3 linked regions of the Homo sapiens genome follow. The protein of the gene in region 1 purifies or fractionates together with the protein of each later gene. This does not show direct contact. Each region holds a gene or a part of one and is shown in the gene's direction. Other genes may lie near its edges.

Region 1 (7,039 bases):
CTCCCCACCAGACAGGGGACTTATCTTATACAGCGTCTCTGTTACCCACCTCAGACTGAAGGTTGCCCTGGGGCAGAGCCTGTGCTTCCTCTCTCTCAATGCCCCGGCACAGGACTCTGACACGGTGGATTCTTAGTAGAGTTGGGTCAGAACATCACTGGGTTTTGTCAAAGAGCAAAGGTTGTCATAAGCTTCCTGGGATGTGAGGTGCCAACCAAGTTTCTTCTAGTCTCTGTCTCTCGTAACCTGTGTTGTGGTTCCATCTGTCCCCTTCTGTGTACAGAGTTGAGGTGACCTGGCTTCTTTTTTTTTTTTTTTTTTTAATGAGTGATCCAAGGGAGGCAGGCTGGTGCCTAGGGGTGCCTCAGGAGCTGCTCACAGTGGGCAGGAAAGGGCCTGGGTGAGGAGGGATGGGAGGGGAGAGGGCAAAACAGGAAGAACAGCGGTCAGCTGCTCAGTGAGGAGAGGAGGCCGAGAAACTGGGCTGAGCAGGACAAAACCTCCCCTGTGAACCCTGCCAAGGGGAGGGGCCCCTTATTAAAACTTACTGGGGCATAGCCAGGCCCCCCTGGAGGGAGGGGGTCTGAGGGGCAGGGAAGGGGGCTGGGTGGAGGCAACTAGGACTCTGGCCTCCAGCCAGTCCTCCCCTGGGTGGCTGTTTCTGTGGCTGGGCTGTGGTTCACACCATCTGTAGCCCTTCAGTTGTCCCCTTCTCCATACCAAAGTGCTGTTTCGCCTAGTCCTGCCCTGGTCCCATTCATTCTTCAAGGACCTGGACTTGTTTCTGTAGGTAATCCAGTCACAGTATTCTCTAGGCTACATCAGCCCAGAAGTGACAGTGATCTAGGCACAAGTTCCAGCTGTGGCCCTAGGGAGCTTCCAGAGGGTAGAAAGTTTTCAGGAGAGGTCATGAGTGGAGAGAGTTTAGAAAGGGGTGTGAGATCCCTTGGGGTGGTGGGTGGGTCCCCTGAAAGCAAGAGGCGAGCTTGGAGCTCAGAGGTGGGTGGCTGGGCAACAGCTTCACACTCCACAGACCTCACTGCCTTGTTTAAGAGAAACCAAGAGTCTGCCCATCAGGTGGAAGGCCTGGCAGGGGCTGGTGGTGCTGTCCTTGCTGTTGCCGTTGCAGTAGGAGGGTTGTCAGTGTGAAATGTGGGGGTGGGGTTTCCCATTTCCCTGTTCTTCCCTTCTAGCCCTGGGCCTATGACAGCCTGCAGGGCTCGCTGAAGTAGTGTTAGGGCCCTGGGGGTGTCAGTGGTGATGTGGGGAATGGGAGTTGAGTGCATGATGGAATGGGAGAGCCTTTCCCTTCTTGTCAAAGGGTGCTGAAATCCCTCTTCTCCTGGACAGGGTGGCTCATAATCGGCCAGCCTTCTACTTCCTTGTTCCTATATCTGGGAAGACCTTTTTTTTTTTTCGGAGACAGGGCCTCATCCTGTTAACCATACAAGAGTCCAGTGGTGCAATCTCGGCTCACCACAACCTCCGCCTTCCTGGCTCAAGGGATTCTCCTGCCTCAGCCTCCTGAGTAGCTGGGATTACAGGCGTGCGCCACCACCGCCCGGCTATTTTTTGTATTTTTAGTAGAGTTGGGGTTTCCCCATGTTGGCCAGGCCGATCTCAAACTCCTGACCTCAAATGATCTGCCCATCTCGGCCCAAAGTGCTGGGATTACAGGCATGACCCACCATGCCTGTAGAAGAAGACCCTGGGAAGATCATTTGGACCACCCCACTTCCCCATTTCTCTTGCCATCTACAAGTTAGGGAGAGACCCCAAGGTGGGACCCCACATTCCTGGAGCTCCTGGAGATCTGAGGCCAGCAGCTATAGACCAGAAAGGGCTTGTCCTGACTTGGGAACTGGGCCCAGGGAGAGGGTCCCTGAGAGCCAGAGAGGATGGCAGTGACAATAGTAACAATAATGACAGCTGCCGTTTACTAGGTTTAGGGCATCCTGGGAACTGCTCTATATGCTTTGTCTTTACTCAGCAACAAATGTTTATTGAACACTTACTATGTGCCAGTCACTGTCTAGGAACTGAGGGTACAGGAGTGAACAAAACAAAAATCCTGCCCTCGTGGAGTTGGATTCCTTACAACTTCTGCTGTTAGTAGCTGCATTTCACAGATGAAGAAACTGAGGCTCAGAGAGGTTAAGTGGTTTGCTTCAGTCTGCATGACTGCAGCTTCTAAGCCCAGATTCCCCACCACTAGAATGCGCAGTTCAAAAGGGGGTGGGGGCCCACAGTGAGAACCAGGCTGGGGTTCCCCTGCCATGACAGAGACCAGGGAAGCCAGGTCTTCCCAGCTCCTGACAGTGCACCACGCTTACATCTGTCTGGGCTTGTTCTTCCAAAGGCAGCTGTGGCCACAGGATATCCCTGGGGAGAGGCACACCTCTTTTAACTGGGGCCCCTTTTTTGAATTTTATGTAAATTATAACGTAGTCAAAATTAGTCCATGCTAATTTCCTTCTAGCAGCCTCTAGATTCTGACACATTCTTGATCCCCTCTCCTTCACCCCCCACTTCACACTCACGACTCTGGGTACCTATCAGTGAAGCAAAGTGGTTAGCAAAGGGTGTGTATTTTTATTTTCATTTCACGCGTACCTCTTGAGCACCCATTATGTGTAAAAGAACAGGGCTGGGTGCTGGGGACCCAGAAGTGGATCTGACCCCAACCTTATTTGGTAGGCATGTATCTGGCACCCAGCCACCCAAGCAGGCAATCAATGAGGCACAAGATGTCAGTAGCTGGCCCCAAGGCTCCAGGGTGTCTACCCAAGTCCAAGAGAAGGGCTTGAATTTAACTCCTGTGCCAGCCTGTGGTCAAAGACAGAGTCCTTGGAACCCTCACCAGATGTGGTGGCCACCCTAAGGTCCTTGCCTGGAGTGGGGAGGAGGGGAGAGGAGCCTCCTGCTTTGGGTGGGAAGCGGAAGGGGCTGCAGAGTGGGTTCTCTAGAAGCATAGCGGTAGAGAGGCAGATTGCCACTCAGCCTGCCTGTCCTTCCAGTCTTTGTTCTGGGTGGCCTTCCTGGGCCACCCCAACCTGAACTGGGTCCCCCACTGTCCTCTCGCTGCCCTTTGTGTGTTTCCTGTATAGCATTTCACACAGGTTGATGGGTATGCCTGGGTATTTATTTGTTCAGCTCCTATTTTCCCGCACTGTGAGCTCTGAGGACAGAGACTGCCTTACTTTTATTCTCCTGTGATGTTGTAAGCACTCAGTACATTTGTTGACTGATTGAATGAACACATGGAAGCAGAATGGTGGAGTGGGAAAAACGTGGGGTCAGAGAGACCTGCTTTGAATTCTGGCTCTGTCCTCTAGCAGTGGTTTGCCACTCTGTCGAGTCATCCTCCATTCTGAGCTTTAGTTTGCTATGACATGTGGATAATGAGGCTACCATCTTGGAGGGGAGTTGTAAGAGTGAAATGACACTATGTGTATCAAATGTTATACAGTGGCTCAGAGTAAAGTGGCTGCTGCTATTATTGTTGTTATTAGCTCTGATCCTGGGTTAGGAATATCTGCCTTGGGGGTTGTGGGGAAGCTCACATATTATGATGTCATTAGGTACTTAGCCTAGGGACACATCCCTTGTGTGACCTATGAACCTGTGACCTGTGACCCCATGGTAGCAACCCTCATGGTATGAACTGGTGCTGTGTTACAGGGTGTGAAGGAAGCCGGTGAGAAGCCTCGGGGAGCACAGATGGTGGACAAGGCTGGCTGGATCAAGAAGAGCAGTGGGGGCCTCCTGGGTTTCTGGAAAGACCGATATCTGCTCCTCTGCCAGGCCCAGCTGCTGGTCTATGAGAATGAGGTGAGGACCTGCTTGGCCCTGAGATTGGGGGTTCTGGGACAGGGGCAAAGTGAGGGCATTCAAGTTAGTAGGAGGACCCTGGGTCTGGGGCCAGAAGACCTGCTCTACTTTTGCCATGCTGTGCAACCTTGAGCGAGTACCTAATCCTCTCTTGGGTCTCTGTATATGGGGATAATACCTCCGAGGACAAATCTAGGGTTTCTAGATGAGAGTTCTTTTCTTATTTTTTTAAACTTAATTCTTTTTTTTTTGGTGATGGAGTCTTGCTCTGTCACCAGGCTGGAGTGCAGTGGCGAGATCTCGGATCACTGCAACCTCCGCCGCCTGGTTCAAGCAAAGCAATTCCTCTGTCTTAGCCTCCTGAGTAGCTGGGACTATAGGCATGCATGCCACCATGCCCAGCTATTTTTTGTTTTTGAGAAAGAGTCTCGCTCTGTAGCCCAGGCTGGAGTGCAGTGGTGCGATCTCAGCTTACTGCAACCTCCATCTCCTGGGTCCTGGTTCAAGCAATTCTCCTGCCTCAGCCTCTGGAGTAGCTGGGATTACAGGCATGCACCACCATGCCCAACTAATTTTTTGTATTTTAGTAGAGACAGGGTTTCACCAAGTTGGCCAGGAGAGTCTCAATCTCTTGACCTCGTGATCCACCCACCTTGGCCTCCCAAAGTGCTGGGATTATAGGTGTGAGCCACCACGCCTGGCCCTCTTTTTTTTTTTTGAGATGGAGTTTCGCTCTTGTTGCCCAGGCTGGAGTGCAATGGCACGATCTCAGCTCACTGCAACTGCCGCCTCCCAGGTTCAAACAATTCTCCTGCCTCAGCCTCCCAAGTAGCTGGGATCACATGCGTCAGCTACCACACCCGGCTAATTTTGTATTTTTAGTAGAGACAGGGTTTCACCCTGTTGGCCAGGCTGGTCTCGAACTCCTGACCTCAGGTGATCCACCCACCTCCGCCTCCCAAAGTGCTGGGATTACAGGCGTGAGCCTGCGTGCCCAGCGGAGAGTTCTTTGAACTGTATGTGCATCTAGTGTGCAAGTCTTTTCCTGTCCCTGGGCAAGGTTCCATATGAGTGAATGTTATGGAAAACTGAAGCCTGCTCCATTCAGCAGTGGTAGTAGAAATAATAATTAGCAGGCCGGGTTGTAGTGGCTTACACCTATAATCTCAGCACTTTGGGAGGCCGAGGCAGGCGGATCACCTGAGGTCAGGAGTTCTAGACCAGCCTGACCAACGTGGAGAAACCCCATCTCTACTAAAAATACAAAATTAGCCGGGTGTAGTGGTGCATGTCCGTAATGCCAGCTACTCAGGAGGCTGAGGCAGGAGAATCACTTGAACCTGGGAGGTGGAGGTTGCAGTGAGCCGAGATCATGCCATTGCACTCCAGCCTGGACAACAAGAGTGAAACTCCATCTCAAAAAAACAAAAAAATAATAAGTAGCACTCGTACTTGTTTGGAGATATGCTCTTACATATCTCCCTATGACAAATTGCAATAGTCCCATGAGAGTGGTCTTCATGTTAGATTTTTACAGAAGAGGATACTGAGGCTCAGGGTGACAAGATGACTGTTCAGCATCTCCCAGTGAATGGAGGAGTTAGGTCTAGAAGCAAGTCCAGCGTGCTTTCTACCAAGAGACGCCAGCAAGTAAACTCCAAAACTTATTTTTGTTAGAAAATCTCTAAAATATGTTAAATATTCTCCGCTTTCTTCAACAGAAGATTCTGGCCTAAATAAAATCTTTCCCTGGTGGCTCAGTGTCATCACCTGTCAGACCCACCTGCAGAGTGGGTTCTCTAGATGCACAGGGGTAAAGAGGCAGATTGCCTCTCTGTTTTGAACTGGCAGGAGGCTGTACTTCTCATCTTTTCTTTCTCCTTTAACATCAAGCTGCTGGTTGCAACTTCTGCTGTCCTTGTGCCTCGAATAGCCCTCACTTCTTCCCACTTCAGATGCTTGTTCCCCTTCTGATTTCAGCAGGCTTGGGATTTGGACAACCAAGGATGCTAAGCTTGCGTGTTAACTAAGAGTCAATTAAGATGTAGGTGAAGACTTGAGGAAGAAAAGTGGTTTTTACTTGTAGATGCTATTTGTGTGCTGTGGTTGAGGCTATCGGAGGGCCCATCCACTGAAAACAGGGTAGCAATATATGCCTTTGACAAATGAAATACCTGGGGAAGAATTGGCCTGGGGGCAGAAGGGGGAGCCTGCCTCTTCCTCATCCACCTCTCCCAGCCTGCCTCAGGCTATCTTGGCAAATTCACAGTTGTCCCAGGACAAGAAAGATTAGGCAACCTGGATCCAAAGTGTTTAAAGGAGCTGCCTCGGAGAAACACCTTGTCTGACCTACCTGAGTTGCTGGCTCGTGGAGTTTGTTTGGGTGTCAGAGAAGCAGTGGGAAGAGGGCAAGGGAATGAGGGTGCGTAGACAGCACCCCCAGATGTTCTCTACTGCTGCTCCCACCAAAATAGGATGTGCCACAGTTGAGAATGAGGCAGCAGGGGGACCTTTTTTCCAATAAAGGGGGTTGTCACAGCTTCTTCCAGTGCCAGCTGCCATGAGATTTAAGTAACAGGCTTCAGCTGTCAGCCTGTCAGGTACTGTCAGACTTGTCCTAAACTGCCTCTCTGCATCTGGCCACAGCTGGGAAGCAGGAAGGATTTCACATCTCCCAAACATGAAAAATCTAAATCATGCTTTTTTCCCCTTGTTTGAAAAAGATTGCTATTAAAAATGTAAATGCAATTTCAGGAACTTAACACTTAGGGGTGGGGGAGCTTGGCCCTGGAGTAGGAATTGAGAAATGCTTATTAGCTCAATTCCTCTTTCTGATGTAAGGAACTAGGCGAATGCGAATGGCTCTTGGCTGTTTCTTTGCTGTCAGAGAGGCTGACATTCCAAAGATGCTTCCCTCACCCATTGCCTACTGGTTTATCCGTTTTTCTGAGCTGCAGAAGAGCTGGGATGATTCAGCGTCTTGGGGTGGGGTGGAGAGGAGACCCAGGACAGGCAGCTATTGGGAGCTTAATGGTAGAGGTGGATGGACTTTTTGTTCCCAGGCAGAGGAGGGTGTATTCGGGCCAGTGGCGGTCCAGTTAGTGGAGGCCTGTGGACACGGGGCAAGTAAGCTGCTCTCTCTCAAGCAAGGATTCTTCCCCGGGCAGTTTCCCTGCTCCAGATTCCCGGGGAGGAGGAGACTTCCTGA
Region 2 (6,031 bases), on another chromosome or scaffold:
ATGGAAACATGTCTGAAATAAAATCAAGTGACGTGTTTTGTTATCCTTTTTGCGTTAAAGTATATGTTTACTTGTGTTCCTGTGCTGTATATTTTAAAAATTTCTGGAAGGCTGCATGAGAAACTGTTAGAATTGTTACTTCTGGATATTGGGATGAGTTGTGGGTGAGGTTAGGAGGTATGTGTGATTTTACTTTTTTTTTTTTTTTTTTAAATTTCCATAGGTTTTGGGGAACATGTGGTGTTTGGTTACATGAATAAGTTCTTTAGTGGTGATACCAAGATTTTGGTGCACCCATAACCCAAGCAGTGTACATTGTACCCAGTGTGTAGTCTATTGTACCCAGTGTGTAGTCTGTTGTCCCTTGCCTCCCTCCGCCAAGTCACCAAAGTTTATTGTATCATTCTTATGCCTTTGCGTCCTCACAGCTTAGCTCCTACTTATGAGTGAGGACATACAATGTTTGGTTTTCCATTCCTGAGTTACTTCACTTAGAATATTGGTCTCCAATTCCAATTCCATCCGGATTGCTGTGAATGCCATTATTTTGTTCCTTTTTATGGCTGAGTAGTATTCCATGGCGTGACTTTTCCTCTGGGTAGATACCCGGAAGTGGGATTGCGGAATCAAGTGGTAGGTCTACTTTTAGTTCATTAAGGACTCTCCATACTGTTTTCCATAGTGATTGTACTAGTTTACATTCCCACCAACAGTGTAAAAGTGTTCCCTTTTCATCACATCCATGCCAACACCTATTATTTTTTGATTTTTTGATTATGGCCATTCCTGCAAAGTGAGGTGGTGTTGCATTGAGGTTTTGATTTACATTTCCCTGATAATTAATGATGTTGAACATTTTTCTTATGTTCGTTGGCCATTTGTATATATTCTTTTGAGAATTGTATATTCATGTCCTTAGCCCACTTTTTGGTGGGATTGTTTGTTTTGTTCTTGCTGATTTGTTTGAGTTCCTTGTAGATTCTGGATATTAGTCCTTTGTTGGATGTATAGATTTTTTTCTCCCACTCTATGGGTTGTCTGTTTACCCTGATGATTATTTCTTTTGCTGTGCAGAAGCTTTTTCGTTTAATTAAGTTTCATCTATTTATCATTTCTTTTGTTGCATTTGCTTTTGGGTTCTTGGTCATGAAGTCTTTGCCTAAGCCATTGTCTAGAAGGATTTTTCCAATATTGCTTTCTAGAATTTTTATGGTTTCAGGTCTTAGATTTAAGTCTTTGATCCATCTTGAGTTGATTTTTGTATAGGGTGAGAGATGAGGATCTAGTTCCATTCTTCTACATGTGGCTTGCCAATTATCCTACCACCATTTGTTGAATAGGGTGTCCCTTCCCACTTTATGTTTTTGTTTGGTTTGTCAAAGATCAGTTGACTACGTATTTGGCTTTATTTCTGGGTTCTCTATTCTGTTACATTGGTTTACATGCCTATTTTTATACCAGTACCATGCTGTTTTTGTGACTATGGCTTTATAGTATAGGTTGAAGTCAGGTAATGTGATGCCTCCAGATTTGTTCATTTTGCTTAGTCTTGCTTTGGCTATGTATGCTCTTTTTTGGTTCCATATGCGTTTTAGGATTGTTTGTTCTAGTTCCGTGAAGAATGATGTTGGTATTTTGATGGGAATTGCATTTCATTTGTAGATTGCTTTTGGCAGTATGGTCATTTTCACAATATTGATTCTACCCATCCACGAGCATGGGATGTGTTTCCATTTGTTTGTGTCATCTGTGATTTCTTTCAGCAGTGTTTTGTAATTTTTCTTGTCGAGGTCTTTCACGTTCTTGGTTAAGTATATTCCTAAGTATTTTATTTTATTTTTTTTGCAGCTGTTGTCAAAGGGTTTGAGTTCTTGATATGATTCTCAGTTTGGTTGCTGTTGGTGTATAGCAGAGCTCTGATTTGTGTACATTAATTTTGTATAGTGAAGCTTTGCTGAATTCATTTACCAGTTCTAGCACCTTTCTGGATGAGTCTTTAGGGTTTTCTAGGTATATGATAATGTAATCAGCAAACAGTGACAGTTTGACTTCCTCATTACCAATTTGGATGCCTTTTATTTCTTTCTCTTGTCTGATTGCTCTGGCTAGGACTTCCAGTGCCATGTTGAATGGAAGTGGTGAGAGTGGCATCTGTGTCTTGTTCCAGTTCTCAGGGGGAATGCTTTCAACTTTTCCTTGTTCAGTATAATGTTGGCTGTGGGATTGTCATAGATGGCTTTTATTACCTTAAGGTATGTCCCTTCTATGCTGATTTTGCTAGAGTTTTAATCATAAAAGGATGCTGGATTTTGTCAAATGCTTTTTCTGCATCTATTGAGATGATCATGTGATTTTTTAAAAATTCTGTTTATATGGTGTATCAGATTTATTGACTTGTGGATGTCAAACCATCCCTGTATCCCTGGTGTGAGACCCACTTGATCATGGTGGACTATCTTTTTGATATGCTTTTTGAAGGCAGTGTGAGAAACTGTTAGAATGGTTACCTCTACATATTGGGATGAGTTGTGGGTGAGGTTAGGAGGTGGGTGTTTGTGATTTTACTTTTTACACTTTAATATTGTTTGATTCTACTTTGTGCATTAATTTCAAAAAAGACTCTTTTAGAATGTCTAGCCATTCTGAAGGAAATACTCTTGGACTTTTGTTTGAGTTCTAATTTATATGTTATAGTATGAATTGCCAGGTTTTAAGCATTAGCATGCATTCTCTATTTTTGGCAATTTGGAAAAGAATCTTTTCAGTCATTTTTCAGACTCTTACTGAATCTTCCACAATATTTTATATTAAAAGTAAAGCTTTCAGTTATCATAGTCTTGATGTATTTTGAAGGGTTCATGGGCAAAATCAGTAATAGTTTGAGATTTCTAACATACTGTATTTTGTGGGCTTATAGATTAACAGAATAGTTTTTTTTCTTTTTTTAATCTTTTCATTTGTGTTAAAATCTGATTTTCTGTTCAAAGGTTGATGCCCAGCTACAGGTAGTAAGGAAACTGGAAGAGAAGGAGCATCTGTTACAGAGCAACATTGGCACAGGGGAGAAAGAGCTGGGTCTTAGGACCCAAGCCTTAGAGATGAATAAACGCAAGGTATGATTGATTAATCTAATGATGGTTAGTCTCAGTGGAACAAATAAGTATAACACTGTTGAGATTGTAAGTTCGCTTTATTCCTTCAACTTGGGCTAACATTTTGCCTCACTGGCAATAATAGGTGATACAATGGTGTCACTTATTTGTACATCCTACATAGGCAATGGAGGCAGCCCAGCTTGCAGATGACCTCAAAGCACAACTGGAGTTGGCTCAGAAGAAGCTACATGATTTTCAGGATGAGATCGTGGAGAACAGTGTTACCAAAGAAAAGGACATGTTCAATTTCAAACGAGCCCAGGTAAAAGCAGTTGTCTTTTCTTGTCACCTTTTAGGTGTTTTCTGAGGTCGGAAGTGACCCATATCATGAAAGAATCATTAGTCCAATGTATGTCATTTCCTACTAGACTTGAGGAAGTTTGTTGAGGGAAGAGAGTAAGTCTGTTTTCTTCACTGCCATATCCTCAGACTCTTTTATGGTGCCTTGCACCTAGTAGGCACAAAATAAATATTTGTTAAATTAATGAATTAGTAAATTGTTAAAGAAGTAACAGCATAGCAGCAGTAGAGGATTTTCAAGTTCTTGTATAATGTCTCTATTTTTGTCATGCTAGCTGTTTCTCATGATGTCTTTCTGTCTTTATCCGTAAGTCTCTGAATTATTTTAAACCGTTCTACCTTCAGCTTAAAACTAATTACTATAAAACAAAATAGACTGTCCTCTAAACTCTTAGATGTGTTTTCACAGGACTGAATTGGTAATAGATGCAATTCTAATTTGGGGATATAATTATGGTTGCCTCTTCTGAAACAAAAGAAAATATCCTGCCATTTGCAGTTCTCTACATTTCTACAAGATAATTGACCATAAAAGGATAGAAAGTCCCCTCTTTTCACAACAGAAAACTCAAGTCTATTATTTTTCTCAAAAATGATAGATTTGGGTAAGTGTGTCTAATGGGTATGCTATCCTGCCACAGGAGGACATCTCTAGACTTCGCAGGAAGCTGGAGACCACAAAGAAACCAGACAATGTACCCAAGTGTGATGAGATTCTGATGGAAGAGATTAAGGATTACAAGGTTAGAAAAAATGCCTTAGTGATTAGTTTTTTGTCAAAGCTTTAAGTGGCCTAATAGACTGGGAGAATAATTTGCATGATAGTAACCAGAGAATGGTTTATTTTGGAGGTTGGGGGGAAATGATGCTCTTTTTTTAGTGCCTTGTGGGTTTTCTTCTTGGTTGTGTAGTATATGAGAGCCATTTGGATCATAAACTTTCATGGTTGTTCAAACTCTGACATCTTTTCTTTTTAGGCACGCTTGACCTGTCCGTGCTGTAACATGCGTAAAAAGGATGCTGTTCTTACTAAGTGTTTTCATGTCTTCTGCTTTGAGTGTGTGAAGACACGCTATGACACCCGCCAGCGCAAATGTCCCAAGTGTAATGCTGCTTTTGGTGCCAATGATTTTCATCGCATCTACATTGGTTGATCTAAGTCAAGAGAAGAAGAGGAGCTGGCTAGTCAGGAACTTATTCATTAACCACCAAACCTCTACCTCTTCTCTCCTTGACTGTCACCTGTAGGACAGTTTATCAGTCAACTACCTTTCCTCCAGACTTTACTTCCAGGCTCTCCTCTTCAGTAGCTGGATGACTTTAGCAGAAAGGACTGGTAAATACAAGCCTTGGGTTTCAGAATGAATTAGAAACAAATAACTCTTACTGTCTTCCCTCCCAGCTTTGTTTATTTTGTGCTTTTAGACTTTTCAGTGTTTTCTTTTTCCAGCCCACTGTATAAACTTGGATTGTCCATTCCTCCTGAAGAAATCAAGTTGGTATTTTTGATGTGGAAAAGGGAACAAAAGTGGAAACATGGCTACTTTTGGGGAGTGATATTTTAAAAAATAAGTTGTCTATGGGCACAAAGTTTTCTTCATTTGTGTAGCAAACTTCTTGTGAATGTGGATTACAAAATGGTATAATTGTGCTACTCTCCCCTGGGTGGTTTGCAGCCCTAATGAAATTATGTCTAGGATGATTCAGTCTATTTCCCATTTACTAGCAGAGTAACTTGTTAAGATCAGCTGGCTTTCTTGTTAAAGTTATTTAAGTTTTGAATGCTCTACTACTTCAAGTCTTTAAATTTCTTGAGACTAGAATAATTTTAAATAATATGACCCTTTGTCTTCTAATGAAATAAAGATTGAAGAGGTTGAGTCAGGACTGAGCTGGTGAAGAAATCTTGTGGGTATTCTGGAAATTTGATACGGAGAGAACTTGGTGAGCTATGAATTACTCTCAGTCTCCTTTTTACAGGGTTGTTGTGATCCCTCTTTTCCAGAAAATTCTGTGGAATGTTTCTGTAGGACTTTGTTCTCCACAAGCTTGAATTAAAGCAGGATTCAGTTTGCATTTGTGTTTATGGTTTTTCTTTGAAACTTTTGTCTTTATTATTACAAGTTGATTTTATATCTGCTGTTATAGAATTAAATTTTCTTGCATGGAAATAATCAGCTTAGGTTAAGAGGTTGGCCTTGTTTAGAGTATTTAGATCTTTGCTTAATTGAAGCACTTTTCTCCCAATTCTTTTATTGAGTCTATTCTATGGAGAAATTATACCTAAAAGATTAATTTATTTGACTACTCAGTTATCTTTCATAGTTCATTAGGTGGGGTAAGAGACTATAATTTGTTTTTTGGGGGAGCATATTGCTGCCTCTAGCTTTAGGGTGAGAGTTCTTGCATTATGTGGTGGGTTTTTTTTTTTTTTTTTTGAGATGGAGTTTTGCTCTTGTCGCCCAGGCTGGAGTGCAGTGGCACAATCTTGGCTTACTGCCACCTCCGCCTCCTGGGTCCAAGCAATTCTCCTGCCTCAGCCTCCCGAATAGCTGGGATTACAGGTGCTCACCACC
Region 3 (7,039 bases), on another chromosome or scaffold:
TCCTCTGCAGGCCTGGGCTCCGGGGGCAGGTGGCCCCTGCATGTAACTTATGTTAGAAATGCACAATGCTTGTTCTCTGGTGCCACAAAGAAATAGTGCTCGAACATTAATTTTCTCAGCAAGGCAGTTTTTACTTTCTGCAGAAAGGGTGCCCCTCGCAGATGGAGCAATGGCAAGAGCACACCTGAACAAGGGAGGGGAAGGGGTTCTTATTCCTGACACAGGTAGCCCTACTGCTGTGTTGTTCCCCTGTTGGCTAAGGTTGGACCACACAGTCTAAGCCAATTCCAATTGGCTATTTTAAAGAGGGCAGGGTAAGAGTCAGAGTGGTGGGGTGAGTAGTTTGACGGGAAGGACGGTTAGGAACAGGTAACTCAAGGTGACTTAGGTCAGAGCAGGTGACCGGGATGAGTCAGGATGGAGCAGGTGACCAGGGAACAGATGTGAACTACTGATTAGGACTGGCGGGAAAATTGTTTACTGAAACTAGAAGCAAGGGGCGAAGAGAACCAGGAATTTTAAATGGAGAATCAAAGAAGAGATCTGGCCGGGTGCAGTGGGTCACGCCTGTAATCCCAGTACTTTGGGAGGCCGAGGTGGGCGGATCACGAGGTCAAGAGATGGAGACCATCCTGGCTAACACGGTGAAACCCTGTCTCTACTAAAAAATACAAAAATTAGCCGGGCGTGGTGGTGGGCACCTGTAGTCCCACCTACTCGGGAGGCCGAAGCAAGACAATGGCTTGAACCCGGGAGGCGGAGCTTGCAGCAAGCAGAGATCACGTGACTGCACTCCAGCCTGGGCGACAGAGTGAGACTCTTGTCTCAAAAAAAAAAAAAGAGATCTGAACATACTGACTTACTGATTCTTTGAAGACAAACTTGGAGTTCACTATATTTAACACTTAGGACCCCTAGTATCTGCCACTGGGCTGCGGGGGCAGCTGCAGGGACACACACCTGTTGGGTGCCTGCTGGTTCCACCCAGGAGCACAGCCAGCAGCCTCATGCCTCCTGCCCCCTGGCAGTCGGGTGCACGTGGAGCAGGTGGCCTTGGCCTCGACAGGGTTCCCAGGGTCCCACTGGAAGCCCCACATGGAACTGTGCCTCTGGGACATTGCTCCAGGGACCTCGGGTGCGGGCTGGCCCCATCCTGTGGGGAGGTCCTGGGAGGGTCAGTCTGGCCCGCCTGCCTGCTGACTTGGGTGTGGCCTGAGCAGGTAAAGGCGACACAGGAGGAGAACCGGGAGCTGAGGAGCAGGTGTGAGGAGCTCCACGGGAAGAACCTGGAACTGGGGTAAGGAGGCCCCGTCTCCTGTCCTCCCCGTCCCCATCCCCCTCGCCATCCTTGTCCCCATCCCCCTCGCCATCCTTGTCCCCATCCCCCTCGCCATCCCTGTCCCCGTCCCCATCCCCACCTGGCCTGGGACCGCTGGGCACCCGAGGCAATGGCTGTGTGTCTGTTCTCCTCCCACAGGAAGATCATGGACAGGTTCGAAGAGGTTGTGTACCAGGCCATGGGTGAGTGCCCGGGCCACCGAGGCCACGTGCCTCCACGAGGGGCTGCCTATGCCCCACCCTGGCCCTGCCCTGCACCCTGCCTAGGACCCCACCCTCCTGAGGCCCCTTTTCCTAACACACGAGTCCCTTCAACATGGGCCCGGCCGTGGAAGCACTGAGGCGAGTTGCGGGGAAGCTGGTGGTAGTGAGGCTGGTGGCTCCCACGGAGCCAGGGCTTGGCAGGCCCCACAGTTGTGCAGATGCTGAGCTAGCAGTGGGGCTGTGGTGGGAGCAGAGTCTGTCCCGCCGTGGCCTACCCCACTCCACCCTGCCCTCGCCGTGCGGCTATGTCTAGCAGCAGCCTCTGTAGGTGTCTGGCAGGACGGGAACACCAGGCCTCATCTGGCCTCCCAAAAGCTTGGGCTCCTGGAGGTGCTACTGTGGGGATCTGTCTTAGGCTGAGTGTCAGCCGGCGGCAGGTGACCGCCTGGCCCTTGCAGTCCCTCCAGGACCACCACGAAGCACGACGCACATCCTGGAGCTCGCCATACCGGCTCCCAGGCCTCACCCTAGGCTCTAGGGTGTTGGGCGCCGCCTCTTCAGGGACCTCTGGCCCAGGCTCCAGTTCCCTGCGGATCTGATGTGGAGGAAACAGCTGTTTCCTGGGCTTTGCATCCGGCCTAGAAGATCCTGGGTGGAGGGACCCATCACCCTCCGAGGCTCACACCCACTGCCCACCTCTCCTCCTGGCGCTCGAGTCCCTTGCCTCATTCCTTGGGCTGTCTCTGGCACCCATCGTTTCGGTTGCCTCCTCATCCTGAACGTTTGCTTTTCTTTTCTCAAGAGGAAGTTCAGAAGCAGAAGGAACTTTCCAAAGCTGAAATCCAGAAAGTTCTAAAAGAAAAAGACCAACTTACCACAGATCTGAACTCCATGGAGAAGTCCTTCTCCGACCTCTTCAAGCGTTTTGAGAAACAGAAAGAGGTGATCGAGGGCTACCGCAAGGTATGTCTCCGCCACCCTGGTGTCCTCACCTCGGAGGCTGATGGACTCATGGTCCAAGCCAGCGGGGCTACAAGCTGCTGTCTTTGCACCTTGGTCCTTGGCCAAGCCTCCCCTTGCCACGGGGGCATGGGATGACCTGTGAACGAGACAGGGTGCAGGAGTCACAGCATAGCTGGTTTGCGAGGCAGCTGAGGGCGGCAGGAGGCAGAGTGAGCAGGGAGGCCATCTGAGCCGTCCGCTGTTGTGTGACAGACGACTCGGCTATGATCAGGCATCTGTGAGATTTGAGACAGCGCTGGTGCACCGGGGCCTGGGGCACCTCGGAAAGGTGTCTGGGCTGTCCGAGCGCTTGGGTCCCAAGGGTTGGGGACCCAGGGCATGCAGTATCCAAGGCGGGAGGCCCACTGAAAGGTGGTCACGGCTGTGCAAGGCCACCCTGGTGTCCTCCTGGCCACGGGACTCTGAGCGCCCCCCACCTTCTGTGCTGGGCAAGGCCCACATGCTTGCTGGAAGGAGGGATGTCTGGGCCATCCATCTGCCCAGAGCAGGCCTGGAAGGTGCCTGCGAGGCCGCCAGAGGGTTCTGCCCACAGCAGCAATGTTGGAGCGGAGGTGCTCAACGCCTCCTGTGGAGGAGCTGGACCTGCAGGTGCAGCTGGAAGAGGGGCTGTCACTGTTGGTGCAAGGGGGTTGGGGACACCAGATGGGTCCCCTGGGAGTCAGACTAAACTGGAAAAGCGGCCCTTGCAGGGCCTGCTGAGCCACACCTCATCTGAGTCCTGAAGTCAGGTGGGTGTCAGTGGCTGGGGCCCAGCTGCCTAACAGAAGCAAGCCTGAATACTCTAGGGAAGAAGGTATCTTATGCTTTAAATTGCTGCTGCAGTTTTAAATTAGTGTCTGGCACAGAATAACCAAGTGTGAAAGGAACAGGAAACATGAGTGAAAATCAGACCCGTTATTAGAGTGAGGCATGGTGATGTACACCTGTGGTCCCAGCTACTAGGGAGGCTGAGGTGGGAGGATCATTTGAGCCCGGGAGGTCGAAGCTGCAGTGAGCCATGATTGTATCACTGCACCCCCAGCCTGGGCAATAGACCAAGACCCCCATCTCTAAAATTAAAAAACAAAAACAAAAACTGTTGATAGACCCACAGGAGCCCCAGACGCTGGAGTTGGCACCGGCAGGTGGTGCCTCAGGTCTGCAGGGAGCAGATGGGAAGGGCCCTGTGGCAGCAGAGTGCCCACCGGCAGCAGAGTACAGCAGTCTGGCCCAGCACAGACGCTTGGAGAGGCAGGACTCTTCACACGGTGCTGCTGGCTTGAGGACACAGCGGCTTTGCTGACCTTCCCTCAGGTTGGGCTGTGGTGTGAGCAGCTGCCTTGGCCTCGCCTCTCCCCGGGGCAGGCCTGTGCCTCAGCTCCCACTGGCCACCTCCCTACTTCCTCATGGAGGCTCCTTTGCACATCTAATCCCATCTTGGACGACCCAGTGCAGACTTTAAAGTAATTGTCTTCTGTATTCAGAAGAGTATTGCTTCAATAGAGACCTTGAAACTAGAAAAGAATCCCCTTCGGGAGACCGAGACGGGTGGATCACTTGAGGTCAGGAGTTCGAGACCAGCCTGGGTTACATGATGAAACTCCGTCTCCTAAAAATACAAAAATTAGCTGGGCAGGGTGGCATTTGCCTGTAGTCCCAGCTACTCAGGAGGCTGAGGTAGGAGAATCACTTGAACCCAGGAAGTAGAGGTTGCAGTGAGCCAAGATCGTGCCACTGCACTCCAGCCTGGGCGACAGAGTGAGACTCCATCTCAAAAAAAAAAAATACAAAAATTAGTTAGGCATGGTGGTGTGCACCTATAGTCCCAGCTACTCAGGAAACTGAGACAGAAAATCATTTGAACCTGGGAGACAGAGGTTGCAGTGAGCCGATATGGCACCATTGCACTCCAGCCTGGGCGACAGAGCGAGACTCTCTCAGAAAACAAAAAATACAGAAAAACTAGGCCGGCTTATGCCTGTAATCCCAGCACTTTGGGAGGCCAAGGCGGGAGGATCATGAGGTCAGGAGTTCAAGACCATTCTGGCCAACATGGTGAAACCCTTTCTGTACTAAAAATACAAAAATTAGCTGGGCATGGTGGCAGGCACCTGTAGTCCCAGCTACTTGGGAGGCTGAGGCAGGAGAATCAATCAGGAGGTGGAGGTTGCAATGAGCCAAGATCGCGCCATCACACTATGGCCTGGCGATAGAGCGAGACTCCGTCTCAAAAAAAAAAAAAAAAAAGCCTGGGCACAGTGGCTCACGCCTGTAATCCCAGCACTTTGGGAGGCCGAGGCGGGTGGATCACGAGATCAGGAGTTTGAGACCAGCCTGACCAACATGGTGAAACCCTGTCTCTTCTAAAGATACAAAAATTAGCCGGGCATGGTGGCACGCACCTGTAGTCCCAGCTACTTGTGAGGCTGAGGCAGGAGAATCGCTTGAATCCGGGAGGCGGAGGTTGCAGTGAGCCGAGATCATGCCACTTCACTCCAGCCTGAGTGACAGAGTGAGTCTCCGTCTAAAAAAAAAAAACAGAAACTAGAAAAGAACCAAATGGAAATTTCTAACAGGTACACAGTTAACAACATTAACAATTCAAAGGGTACAGGTCAGATGAGGGAAGCAGAGGCTGAGTTGGGAACCAGTGTGTGGACGGCAGCCCCCAGAGCCAGAGGGAGAGACGCCGCTGTGGCGGGAGGCTTGACCTGTGCACACGTGAGAGCTTCCGGATGCCGCCTCCCGGACAGACGCTGTTGGGAATTTTCCACAGCAGAGAAACACAGTGCTGTGGGTTTAAGGGAGGCGTGACCTCCGCAGGACATCAGGGGCTGCATGCTGGGTAGGGGCTCAGGGAGAGGCTGCAGTGCTGAGGGTGCTTCTGGGATACAGGGCTGCGACAGAGGAGTGAGGATGGCTGGGCTGTGAGGCCGCTGGGGGCACTGCAGGAAGAAGGCAGGTAGGCTGAGCCTTCCCAAGCAGAGGCCACTCGGGGACCCAGGAACCCCTCAGTTAGGGCTTCTCAGTCACTGAGCGGAAGGTGCCCCCAGAGGGGGCAGCAGCCTGTGAGGAGCAGGCGTGTCTGGGTAACCATGTGGCTCCTGCTGGCCTCCCCTGCCTGTCCCCAAAGCACAGGGCTCAGCTCCAGAGGGAGACGGGCTGGGCTGTCAGTGGTCCCAGGTGCATCCCACTTTCCAGCAGCACTTGGTGCCAGCAGAGGCTGCAGGTGTGGCAGGAGGGGGCCCAGCCGTGAGGGCACCAGGTTCAGGCCCGGCATCTCAGGGTGGAGAGCCAGGGCTGTCCTGAACCTCCAGAGGGGGTGAGCTGGGAACTTGTGTGAAGGGGCTTTTTCCAAAAGGAAAACGGGAGCTACTGGCTCACGGCTGATGCCCCAGACAGCCTCGAGGATCTGCAGGTCCCCAGACACCAAGCCTGGGTGCTCTCCAGCAGACGGCGTGGTACCCACAGCTAATGCCTGCCCCTTCCTAGAACGAAGAGTCACTGAAGAAGTGCGTGGAGGATTACCTGGCAAGGATCACCCAGGAGGGCCAGAGGTACCAAGCCCTGAAGGCCCACGCGGAGGAGAAGCTGCAGCTGTGAGTGCTGGGCGAGGCCCCACCCTGGAGGGAGAATCTGAGCACCTGGGCCCCAGCTCAGCCTCTGCCCCGCCCCTACCCCTCCAGGGCAAACGAGGAGATCGCCCAGGTCCGGAGCAAGGCCCAGGCGGAAGCGTTGGCCCTCCAGGCCAGCCTGAGGAAGGAGCAGATGCGCATCCAGTCGCTGGAGAAGACAGTGGAGCAGAAGGTGGGTGCGGGAAGCCCAGCTCAAGGGGCCGTCTGGCAGCACCTTCTAGAAGGCCCTTGGGCCTGCTGCTCCCTCCAAGCAGGGAGAAGCCCCGCAACTCATCTTCCTCCTCCAGACTAAAGAGAACGAGGAGCTGACCAGGATCTGCGACGACCTCATCTCCAAGATGGAGAAGATCTGACCTCCACGGAGCCGCTGTCCCCGCCCCCCTGCTCCCGTCTGTCTGTCCTGTCTGATTCTCTTAGGTGTCATGTTCTTTTTTCTGTCTTGTCTTCAACTTTTTTAAAAACTAGATTGCTTTGAAAACATGACTCAATAAAAGTTTCCTTTCAATTTAAACACTGAAGCCGCTCTGGTCTTGATGAAGCAAAGGTTTCCCAGCTCTAGCCTGAGGCTGAGCCGACCCGCAGGTGCCCTCCCTTCCCCTCAGAGCTGGCCACTTGGTCCCTGCCTACCCCAGGCTCAGGCCACCCTGCCGAGGGGCAGGGACAGCCAGTGGATAGAGGAGGCTCAGGCCTGCCCAGTCTGCCCCGGCCACCTCGGGTTGGCTACATGGTCCTGGCCTCAGGTACACACATCAAAGTCCAAATGGACTCGTTTTTTTGTTTGTTTTTTTGTTTTTTGTTTTTTTTGAGACAGTCTCTCACCCACGCTGGAGTGCAGTGGCGTGAACTCGGCTCACTGTAAG

The links. Proteins that work in one complex are often made in the same cells at the same time.
Region 2: the proteins of PLEKHO2 (region 1) and RNF20 purify together in Homo sapiens (affinity purification with mass spectrometry; 3 studies listed by BioGRID and IntAct, with this or other methods). This does not show direct contact.
Region 3: the proteins of PLEKHO2 (region 1) and TACC3 purify together in Homo sapiens (affinity purification with mass spectrometry; 4 studies listed by BioGRID and IntAct, with this or other methods). This does not show direct contact.

Annotation. Positions count from the first base shown.
Region 1 is NC_000015.10:64,844,912-64,851,950, forward strand, and holds part of PLEKHO2 (pleckstrin homology domain-containing family O member 2), read left to right. Parts: intron 1-3,681; coding exon 3,682-3,831; intron 3,832-7,039.
Region 2 is NC_000009.12:101,557,814-101,563,844, forward strand, and holds the end of RNF20 (E3 ubiquitin-protein ligase BRE1A), read left to right. Parts: intron 1-2,987; coding exon 2,988-3,113; intron 3,114-3,276; coding exon 3,277-3,417; intron 3,418-4,096; coding exon 4,097-4,198; intron 4,199-4,432; coding exon 4,433-4,609; 3' UTR 4,610-5,531; downstream 5,532-6,031. UniProt on the Homo sapiens protein: Component of the RNF20/40 E3 ubiquitin-protein ligase complex that mediates monoubiquitination of 'Lys-120' of histone H2B (H2BK120ub1).
Region 3 is NC_000004.12:1,738,482-1,745,520, forward strand, and holds the end of TACC3 (transforming acidic coiled-coil-containing protein 3), read left to right. Parts: exon of another isoform or gene 1-1,217; coding exon of another isoform or gene 1,218-1,220; coding exon 1,221-1,297; exon of another isoform or gene 1,298-1,477; coding exon 1,478-1,521; exon of another isoform or gene 1,522-2,000; coding exon of another isoform or gene 2,001-2,080; exon of another isoform or gene 2,081-2,344; coding exon 2,345-2,505; intron 2,506-4,913; exon of another isoform or gene 4,914-5,056; intron 5,057-6,036; coding exon 6,037-6,143; intron 6,144-6,230; coding exon 6,231-6,351; intron 6,352-6,433; coding exon of another isoform or gene 6,434-6,466; coding exon 6,467-6,532; 3' UTR 6,533-6,690; downstream 6,691-7,039. UniProt on the Homo sapiens protein: Plays a role in the microtubule-dependent coupling of the nucleus and the centrosome. Involved in the processes that regulate centrosome-mediated interkinetic nuclear migration (INM) of neural progenitors.